Linked DNA regions of Homo sapiens: all the other regions are linked to region 1. The links come from fine-mapping of genetic effects on gene expression. A gene starts in region 1. Each other region holds a variant in brackets. All regions are shown on one strand. Distances are from middle to middle.

The links.
Region 2: its variant is fine-mapped to the expression of QSOX2 in whole blood (TOPMed, PIP 0.99).
Region 3: its variant is fine-mapped to the expression of QSOX2 in fibroblasts (GTEx, PIP above 0.99). The same link has a PIP of 0.9 or more in lung and monocytes.

What each region holds. Positions count from the first base shown.
Region 1 is chr9:136,244,534-136,247,286 of GRCh38, reverse strand. QSOX2 (quiescin sulfhydryl oxidase 2) reads left to right here and starts at 1,475. Exons shown (of 12, transcript NM_181701.4): 1 at 1,475-1,811. The coding sequence starts at 1,484. RefSeq lists silencers at 1,238-1,507, 1,538-1,947.
Region 2 is chr9:136,208,283-136,211,035 of GRCh38, reverse strand. QSOX2 (quiescin sulfhydryl oxidase 2) reads left to right here. Exons shown (of 12, transcript NM_181701.4): 12 at 1,761-2,753. The coding sequence ends at 2,308. Among named protein-coding and RNA genes, the nearest start is that of LHX3, 4.5 kb to the right of the region's middle. RefSeq lists enhancers at 1,500-2,049, 2,050-2,601. The variant C/T (reference allele first, on the strand shown) is at 1,110.
Region 3 is chr9:136,217,617-136,220,369 of GRCh38, reverse strand. QSOX2 (quiescin sulfhydryl oxidase 2) reads left to right here. Exons shown (of 12, transcript NM_181701.4): 7 at 1,206-1,340; 8 at 1,562-1,691. Among named protein-coding and RNA genes, the nearest start is that of LHX3, 14 kb to the right of the region's middle. The variant G/A (reference allele first, on the strand shown) is at 1,562.

The sequences.
Region 1 (2,753 bases):
CCCTGGGTCTCGCTCGGGCTCTCAGCTTTTCTTCCCTCCCACGCTTCCCCCAGCTTGCTCCGCTCCCACCAGGTCCGGCTCCTTGCTGTTCCTCCAGCGTGCTCAGCACCCTTCTGCCCCAGGGCCTTTGCATGTGTGCCTCCTCCCTCACCTCCTTCTCCATTCGGGTCACCTTCTCAAAGACCTCCCCACCCTCCTCTGTACGGCAGCCCTGCTGGCACCTGCTTCCGTGTCCGGCTTCATTGCTTTTCATAGCACGCGGTGGCTGCTTTACGCGTTGGTTTGTTTGGGGTCTGCCCAAATGCAGGCCAGGGACACTGGGGGCTCGGTTTTGTTCTTGATTTGTCTCCAGGGCTTGGCACAGAGCAGAAGCCAGGAAACGTGGGTGATGGAAGGAAACATGAACAGGGAGACGCAGGACGTGAGGAAAAGGGAGCAGACGCCTTGGCCAGGGGCCCTCTGGGGAGAATCCTCTCATCTGGGGTTAACCATTGTTAGCAGCAAAACCTTTTAAACAAAATCTTACACAGAACCCCACAATACAGTTATCTATTTATTTTGAGACAAGGTCTCGCTCTGTCATCCAGGCTGGAGTGCAGTGGCAGAGTCACGGCTCACTGCAGCCTCAAGCTCCCAGGCTCAAGCCATCCTCCACCTTAGCCCCTCAAGTAGCTGGGACTACAGGTGTGCACCACCATGCCCGGCTTTTTTCTTTTTTTTAAGAGATGGGCTCTCGCTATGTTGCCCAGGCTCGCCCACTCCCTTGTTTTGTTTTGGTCACACAGTTCAGAGAAAATCTTGACATGTGTAAAAATTAGGAATAGGAACAAAAAAAAAAATCAGGTATCCTGTTCAATGAAGCAAAAAAGTCATATGATTTCATTTCCAAACCGTGAAGCTGCATTCGACTGGAACATCCTAAAAGGTAGCACACAACACATCTGACTTTGAGTGGATGTTTTGCTGCATTTTCTAAGCGTTCCAATATCATATTAAAAAGTCGAGGCTGGCTTGCAGACCCTCTGAAGCCCCAGGTGGGGTTGCCAAGTAAAAGAACCCCGGAATAGTTTTTTACGTCTAAGAATGTCTTGTTAAATTTGTATTTCAGGCATGGCACAGACCTAGGCTGAAAAACCGACTCACTGTTTGTCTGAAATTCACGTTGAACCTGGCGTCGTGCACTTCCATTTGCTAAATGTGGCCACCTGGCCCTGTTCAGGGAAGGGGTTTGGGGAACGCGCGGCGGGGTGGGGCGGGGCCTGGGCGGAGCCTGCCGCGCCTGGGCGGGGAGATGGCGTCATCAGACTCTTGGGGGCGGGGCTGCCACGCATGGGCGGGGGCGGGGGCGGGGAGAGAGGGCGGGGTCAGACGTGAGGGGGCGGGGCGGAACAGAACTGGGCGCGCGGGGGCGGGGCCGGGCGCGCCGGCGCACGTGACGGTGGTTGCCAGGGTGAAAGTTCAGCGCGCCGGCGGCACTTCCAACATGGCGGCGGCCGGGGCGGCGGTGGCGCGCAGCCCGGGAATCGGAGCGGGACCTGCGCTGAGAGCCCGGCGCTCGCCCCCGCCGCGGGCCGCACGGCTGCCGCGGCTGCTAGTGCTGCTAGCGGCGGCGGCGGTGGGGCCGGGCGCGGGCGGTGCGGCGCGGCTGTACCGCGCGGGCGAGGACGCCGTGTGGGTGCTGGACAGCGGCAGCGTGCGCGGGGCCACCGCCAACAGCTCGGCCGCGTGGCTCGTGCAGTTCTACTCGTCGTGGTGTGGCCACTGCATCGGCTACGCGCCCACTTGGCGGGCCCTGGCTGGGGATGTGCGAGGTGAGGCGCGCCCCCGCGCGGGGACCCCCCGACCCCCGGGACCGCGGCCTTCCGGGACCCCTTGCGACCGCCCCAGAAGGCGGGTCCCGGGGCCCCTCCCCCGTATTTCTTTCCTTACCGCAGAGCCAGTCCCTGCCCCACAGAGGCACCCGACTCGGACCAACCCTGGCCTTTCCAGGGGCGGGAGACTAAGCCAGCTGCTCCCCATGTCTCTCCCAGTTAATCCCCGTTAGATCCTGACGAGTTGGGCTGTCTGAAGTCAAAATGAAACCATTCTCCCGCAGCCCTCACCGCACGCTTGGGGATAGGGAAGCCCTCCCGTATCCCAGCTCTCAAAATACCTATGTTTTGAGCCCCAAGAACTTCATTGACCTTCCAGGCCTCCTACCCTACCTGTTTCCTAGCGTCCACACACCCCATCCCCAGTGCCCAGAATTCCTGTTCTCTGAGGATCCCTCATTCCTATTCCACACTCGTAGCCACCCCATTCCCTTTGAACCTTCATCATTAACTTTCTGGTTCGGATCGCTGGCCATATAGTGGGTGCTCAAAGTGAACCCACAACTTAGAAGTCCAAATACTCTGGAGACTTCTCTATAATACCCCAAAACAACCTATAAAGCAATTTTTTTAACTCTACAAAGAATTTCATTGGTGGGCTCCTTGATCACAGATGCACAGCCTTTGAGAAATCTTTCACCAAACTGCTGGTAGTGTTCCGCACTTTATTGTTTAGTGCTTTCATCTGGTCGCACGTTGTTAACCAGTCACGAAGTTACTCGCCTGCTCTACAGGTTAGAGTTGGCGTGGGAGGGGGCATTCACAACACCCTTCCCTTAAAATGGTATTTAAATCACTGAAGTAGGAGGTCCTCCCGACCCAGTGAGGTTTGGCAGGACTTCCTGTGTTGTGCTAACCTCAAATTACATGTTTCAGTGGGCA
Region 2 (2,753 bases), 36 kb after region 1:
GCTCTTCGACCCCGTGGAAATGGGTGTGGCTCTTTCTTCCCCCATCGGTACCCACTGGTAGCCCGTTAGACTCTGAAGATGTTTTTGACTCTGGAAAGCTTGGAACGTAATTAATTTTTGATGAGGAATTTTAGTAGTATGGAAATCTGTTGTCCAAACGTAAACCAAACCTCTCAAAGTGCTTTGTTTTGTTAAAAAAAAATAATTAAATAGGGCACATGTATTTTCTCAGAGTTAAGTACTTCAAACTGTTCCTAAATCAGTGGCAGATTAAAATTAGGCTTAAAAATAATTCCACTGAGAAATCTTAATAGAGATGAATAGAAAATGCCACTAAACTATTGGTTTTTATTTAATCCACTGTGTTAGAAAAACATATTACAGCTGAAGCACTAAAGAAATTGGTTTTTCTTTGCCCTGAGCCTGACTGCCGGGGCCGGGGTCATGTGACGAAGGCGCTGTGTGTCTGCGGGGTTTGTTCCCTCGGTCAGCGCAGCTTCTCCGTCTCTCCGCCCTGGCAGCCTCTGCATCGCCGCCGCCCACAGAGCTCCCTGTGCTTTCCCCGAGCCCTCGGCTCTGAGGCAGTGGGACCAGGACCCTCGCCAGGCCTGCCTGGACCTGGAGCCCCTGCTGCTACCTGTGGCCCCAGCCCGCATGTGCCCCCACTACCCCAGTCATGAGACTGCAACAGAAAGGGGCCTTACAGCCCAGTGTGATTGTCACTCCTGAGATTCCCACTCCAGTCCCACCTCCAGCCTGTGCATTGAGACCCAAGCTCCTGGGAGGCCCCTCGGAGATGTGCCTGGGGTCTTCTGCCCAGGGCTGGCGCCTTATTTGACAGTCCTACATGAAGCTCTGGCAGCTTCTGACCAAGGTGCCACTGGTCTGTGCTTGTCCCCTCTGGCTTCGTGTGCAGCACCTGCTGCCGGTTGGCCGGATAAGCACGCAGTCAGTGACTGGCCCGAGTAGGGCATCTCTTGATTTCAGGCACGTCTCAAGTCCCCCAGACAAACGTGGTTGTGTTTACATTCACTTCTGGAAGCTCTGTGAGGGTGGCCAGGTGTCAGCAAGTCGGGTCGCAGGGGCTCCGAGAGCTAGGAGGCGCCGTG[C/T]GCCGCAGCTTCTGCATGACGGATGCCTGTTGGGCCTGGAAGTGAGCACATGTCACTTCAGAAACGAGTTTTGGAGATCTTGAAGGGATTTGTAGTCCGGAAAGGGCCAGTGTACCTGAAGTGCAGTGGAAATTCATTGCTGCCCCTCTGCCCTTTCCTGAAGGTGCACCTAAGGCCCACTGTCCATAGCACCCAGGTGGCCGGGGCTCTGTAGGTAGTGGGCCTCAGGTGCACCCTCAGGAAAGGGCAGAGGGGCAGCAGTGGGGGGAGGGGCACACAGGCAGCACTGTGCGGAGAAAGGCCTCCAGGTGAGAGCTGCATGCTCCGTTTTGGAAGTGGAGTGCTGGGTGGTTTGGGACAGGTGTGGTCTGGGAAGTGGCGGAGGCCGAGCGTGTAGCGTCTCCTCACTTGCAGGCTATGGGAACCGGCAGAGGGGAACACGTGCGCAGGGGCCTGCAGAAGCAGGATGTTATCTGGGCCGAACTGCAAGGGACGGGTGGTGGGAAGGGCAGGGAGGGAGGCCTGGCAGGACCCTGGGCCAGGGCAGTGGAGGCCCGTGGTGGGTGGGAGTGGGAGTCCGGTTGCCGCACGCTGCACGTGGCTGCACAAAGCCTCCTTCCCTCTGGCTCTCCCGCTTCCTTTTCTTCCTAGGCCATCTGAGTGAGGATCCCCGGTTTCCAAAGCTTCAGTGGCCCACTCCGGACCTCTGCCCAGCCTGCCATGAGGAAATTAAGGGCCTGGCCAGCTGGGATGAAGGCCACGTGCTCACATTCTTGAAGCAGCACTATGGCCGCGACAACCTCTTAGACACGTATTCCGCAGACCAGGGGGATTCCAGTGAAGGAGGAACCCTGGCCAGGGGTGAGGAAGAGGAGAAAAGACTCACTCCCCCAGAGGTGTCCCATGGAGACCGAGACACCCAGAGCGTCCGTCCACCTGGTGCACTGGGCCCCAGGCCTGCCCTTCCAGAGAGCTTGCATCACAGCTTGGACGGGAAACTCCAGAGTCTGGATGGGCCCGGGGCCCACAAGGAGGTGGGCGGGGCCGCACCCTTCCTCGGGGTTGACTTCTCCAGCCTGGACATGAGTCTCTGTGTCGTGCTGTACGTGGCTTCATCCCTGTTCCTCATGGTGATGTACTTCTTCTTCCGGGTGAGGTCCAGGCGGTGGAAGGTCAAGCACCACCACCCGGCCGTGTGAGTGCCCGGGTGCTGCCAGCCACGGCGGAAGCTCCCTTGGAGGCAGCCCTGCCCCGTGCCACCTGCAGCTTTAATATTTATGATCAGGGATTTTATAAACATGCGGGCCTGGTTTCACATCGGATGGCACCTTTTGGCTTCAAAGTCCTGGTTTTACAAACGCTCTTCTAACAAGGGAAGAACACGGGGTAATTTTGTGGGGATATTTGCATTCCTGGCGTACTCAAGTCTGTTCATGCTCCTTTTGCAGGTCTTACAGCAAAAAGACTTCTGTATTTTTACTCTTCTAGATGTGAAAAGAGGGTGCAGAGTCCAGGCCAGATAGTCTTCCCCACACACTTTCATCTCGTTTCCTCCACTCCGCCCCATCCTGCAGGGCCTTGTTTTTGTATTTGGAGAACCTCGCCCATCCCCCCCGCGGCTCCTGGCTCCCCCCCACTCCCCTC
Region 3 (2,753 bases), 27 kb after region 1:
CCCAGAACACCGCAGTTTCTTAAGTATTTTTCTTTCCTTTTGAAAAAGAGGCCAGGCTCACACCTGTAATCCCAGCACTTTCAGAGGCTGAGATGAGAGGATTACTTGAGCCCAGGAGTCTGAGACCAGCCCAGGTTGATAGTGAGACTCCAGCCTATGACAAATAAAACATTAGCCGGGCGTGGTGGAGTATGTCTGTGGCTACATCTACTCAAGGGGCTGAGGTGGGAGGATCATTTGAGCCCAGGAGGTTGAGGCTGCAGTGAGCTGAAATTGCACCACTGCACTCCAGCCTGGGCAACAGAGAAAGATCCTGTCTCAAAAATAGATAAATGAGTGAAAATACAAAAGATAAAGCTGGAATTCAGGGTAACCACAGAGGCCATTGAGCTTGTTGGGAGATGCTCTGAGTGCTTGGGGGCCTGGCTCTGCCAACGAGGTGGCCCATTCCAGGCCTGGGGCACAGCACTGCACTTGGCAGAGCGGCCTGAACCACTCCCAGATGTTTGTTTAGTGTTAAAAGTATCATCTAGACAACTTCTTAGTGTCAAATAATGTTAATATTTTTATAGATATTTTAATGTTTTTGCAAATAGCACTGCTACATTCTGTCTTTGGAAACAAGCTCCACGTCACACTGAAGTGCTCAATAATGGCATTGAGGGTGTCCTCAGAAGGCAGCTCCACCCTGTCCACACAGCGTGGGCACACAGGGGGCTCAGCTCCACCCTGTCCACACAGGGTGGGCACGCAGGGAGCTCAGGGGCCTGACATCAGGGAGGGGCTGACGTCCACCCCAGGCCCCGACTTCCAGATGCCTCACTCAGGGCTGGCAGATTGTGGGCGCGTCGGTGAAGGCTCTTAGGCGTGTTGGAAATCGCAGTCAGAATAAAGCTCATCTTGGCAGATGCTCAACCCAGCTTTACAAAACGCCTTAAGGTCCCCACAAACATAAATGAGTCATAGTACTTATTACAACTGGAACTGGTTGTAAATCTGTGGATTTGGTGTGTCTCCTCTTATCCCCCAGGTGGAAGCGCAGCCGGAGCCCAGGCGGGGTGTCAGCTGTTCCCACTGACTCCCATGCCCCAATAAATGCCCAAAGGATGAAAGGGGTGGCCCAGAGCTGTCCTGAATGCCACGGCTCCTACTTTAGGATTTTATAAAGGAGGCTCTTCTCACCTTTGCCCTCCCCTCTCTCACAGCGTGAAGCCTCTGCGGGCCTTCTTTTCGTCTTATTTGAAGTCATTGCCGGATGTGAGGAAAAAATCGCTTCCCTTGCCTGAAAAGCCACACAAAGAAGAAAATTCAGAAATCGTGGTTTGGAGAGAATTTGACAAGCAAGTGTTCCTCTTGAACTGAAGCCCCCGGAGACAGTGCGTGTAGACCGAAGGCTGCGTGCTTGCAGGGCGGGTTTACTCAGAAACCCACCCCAGCCAGTGAGGGCCGCTCAGGAGCCCTCCCAGGGGCCCTGGGAGTCCGTGGGGAGGAGCCAGGACAGGGAGACTTGCTGTGGAGGGAAAGGTTGGGCATTCCCTGACGCTGCCATATCCCGTCCTAG[G/A]TCGAAGCTGTACACGGTGGACCTGGAGTCAGGGCTACACTACCTCCTGCGGGTGGAGCTGGCAGCCCACAAGTCCCTGGCCGGAGCAGAGCTGAAGACGCTCAAGGACTTTGTGACTGTCTTGGCCAAGGTTTGGGACGGTGCTGGTCTGGGCTGCATGTGGGAATTTGGCTCTGCACAGAGTGGGCCCTGGGGGGCGTCGGACACTGCGGGGGCTCCGCCAGCTCCGCTGAGGTGCTCTCCACCTTGCTTTGTCGCCCAGGCCCACGCCCCAACTCATTCCACCCATTTCCCGAGTGCCTCCTGCGTCCACTGCTGTTCCCAGCACTGGGGCTGGGGCGGTGGGTGTAGAGAGGGGCGGGGGTGTGAGCCGAGCACCTGCTGGAAAAGCCCAGCTCTGGCTGCCTGGAGAGTAGATGGAGGAGGGAGCGGAGGCCCACACACACCTCAGCTGGCTCTCAGAGGAGCGCTGCACGGGGGCTGGGGGGAGAGAGAGAGGGAGAGGCAAGGGCTGTGCAGATCCAGGTGGGGTGTGCATCTGCCCCACCAGCCAGGTTCAGGGAGGGGTCCTGGGAGCTTCACGCTCAGCACCATCACCAGCACAGATGTGGTGTCTGAGACCACTGAGGGGGTCGCCAGGAGCGGGCAGAGATGCCACCCAACAGAGCTCAGGCCTGGCCGTGCCCAGGGTCAGGCTGAAGAGGACCAGCCAGGGAGGTGGCCAGGTGTAACTCCATGAGCTCGGTTGCTTGTTACTGTCTAAATGACAAGAAGGCTTAGGCTTAAAATATTTATCTTGCCAAAAATAAGATGCATGATAGAATAATTTATAGTGAGCACTTTGGATAGAGTTTACTTACAAAGTGATTTGTGAAAAGTACAGGAAATCTTGAAGGACTGGAGGTGCCTCAGATGAATGCATGAACATTGCCCAGGCAGCTTTTTCCCCCACGGTGCCATCCAGAGTTCAGAAATCTCTAGCTGGCCTCATTTCCTTTAAGAAAGTGTCCTGCTAATCTGTCCATCATATTAGTGGAGGACAGTGTGGCTCTTAGTGGTGGTGGCCGCCGGCCAGCTAATTCGCTGGAGTCGCACAGCTGTCGCTAGGCAGACCTGCTCTCCTCTCCCGGCTTCTCCGTCTTCCCCTTAGTCTAGTTAGGCTTGGAGCTTTTACACTTGTGCTCTGGGCAAC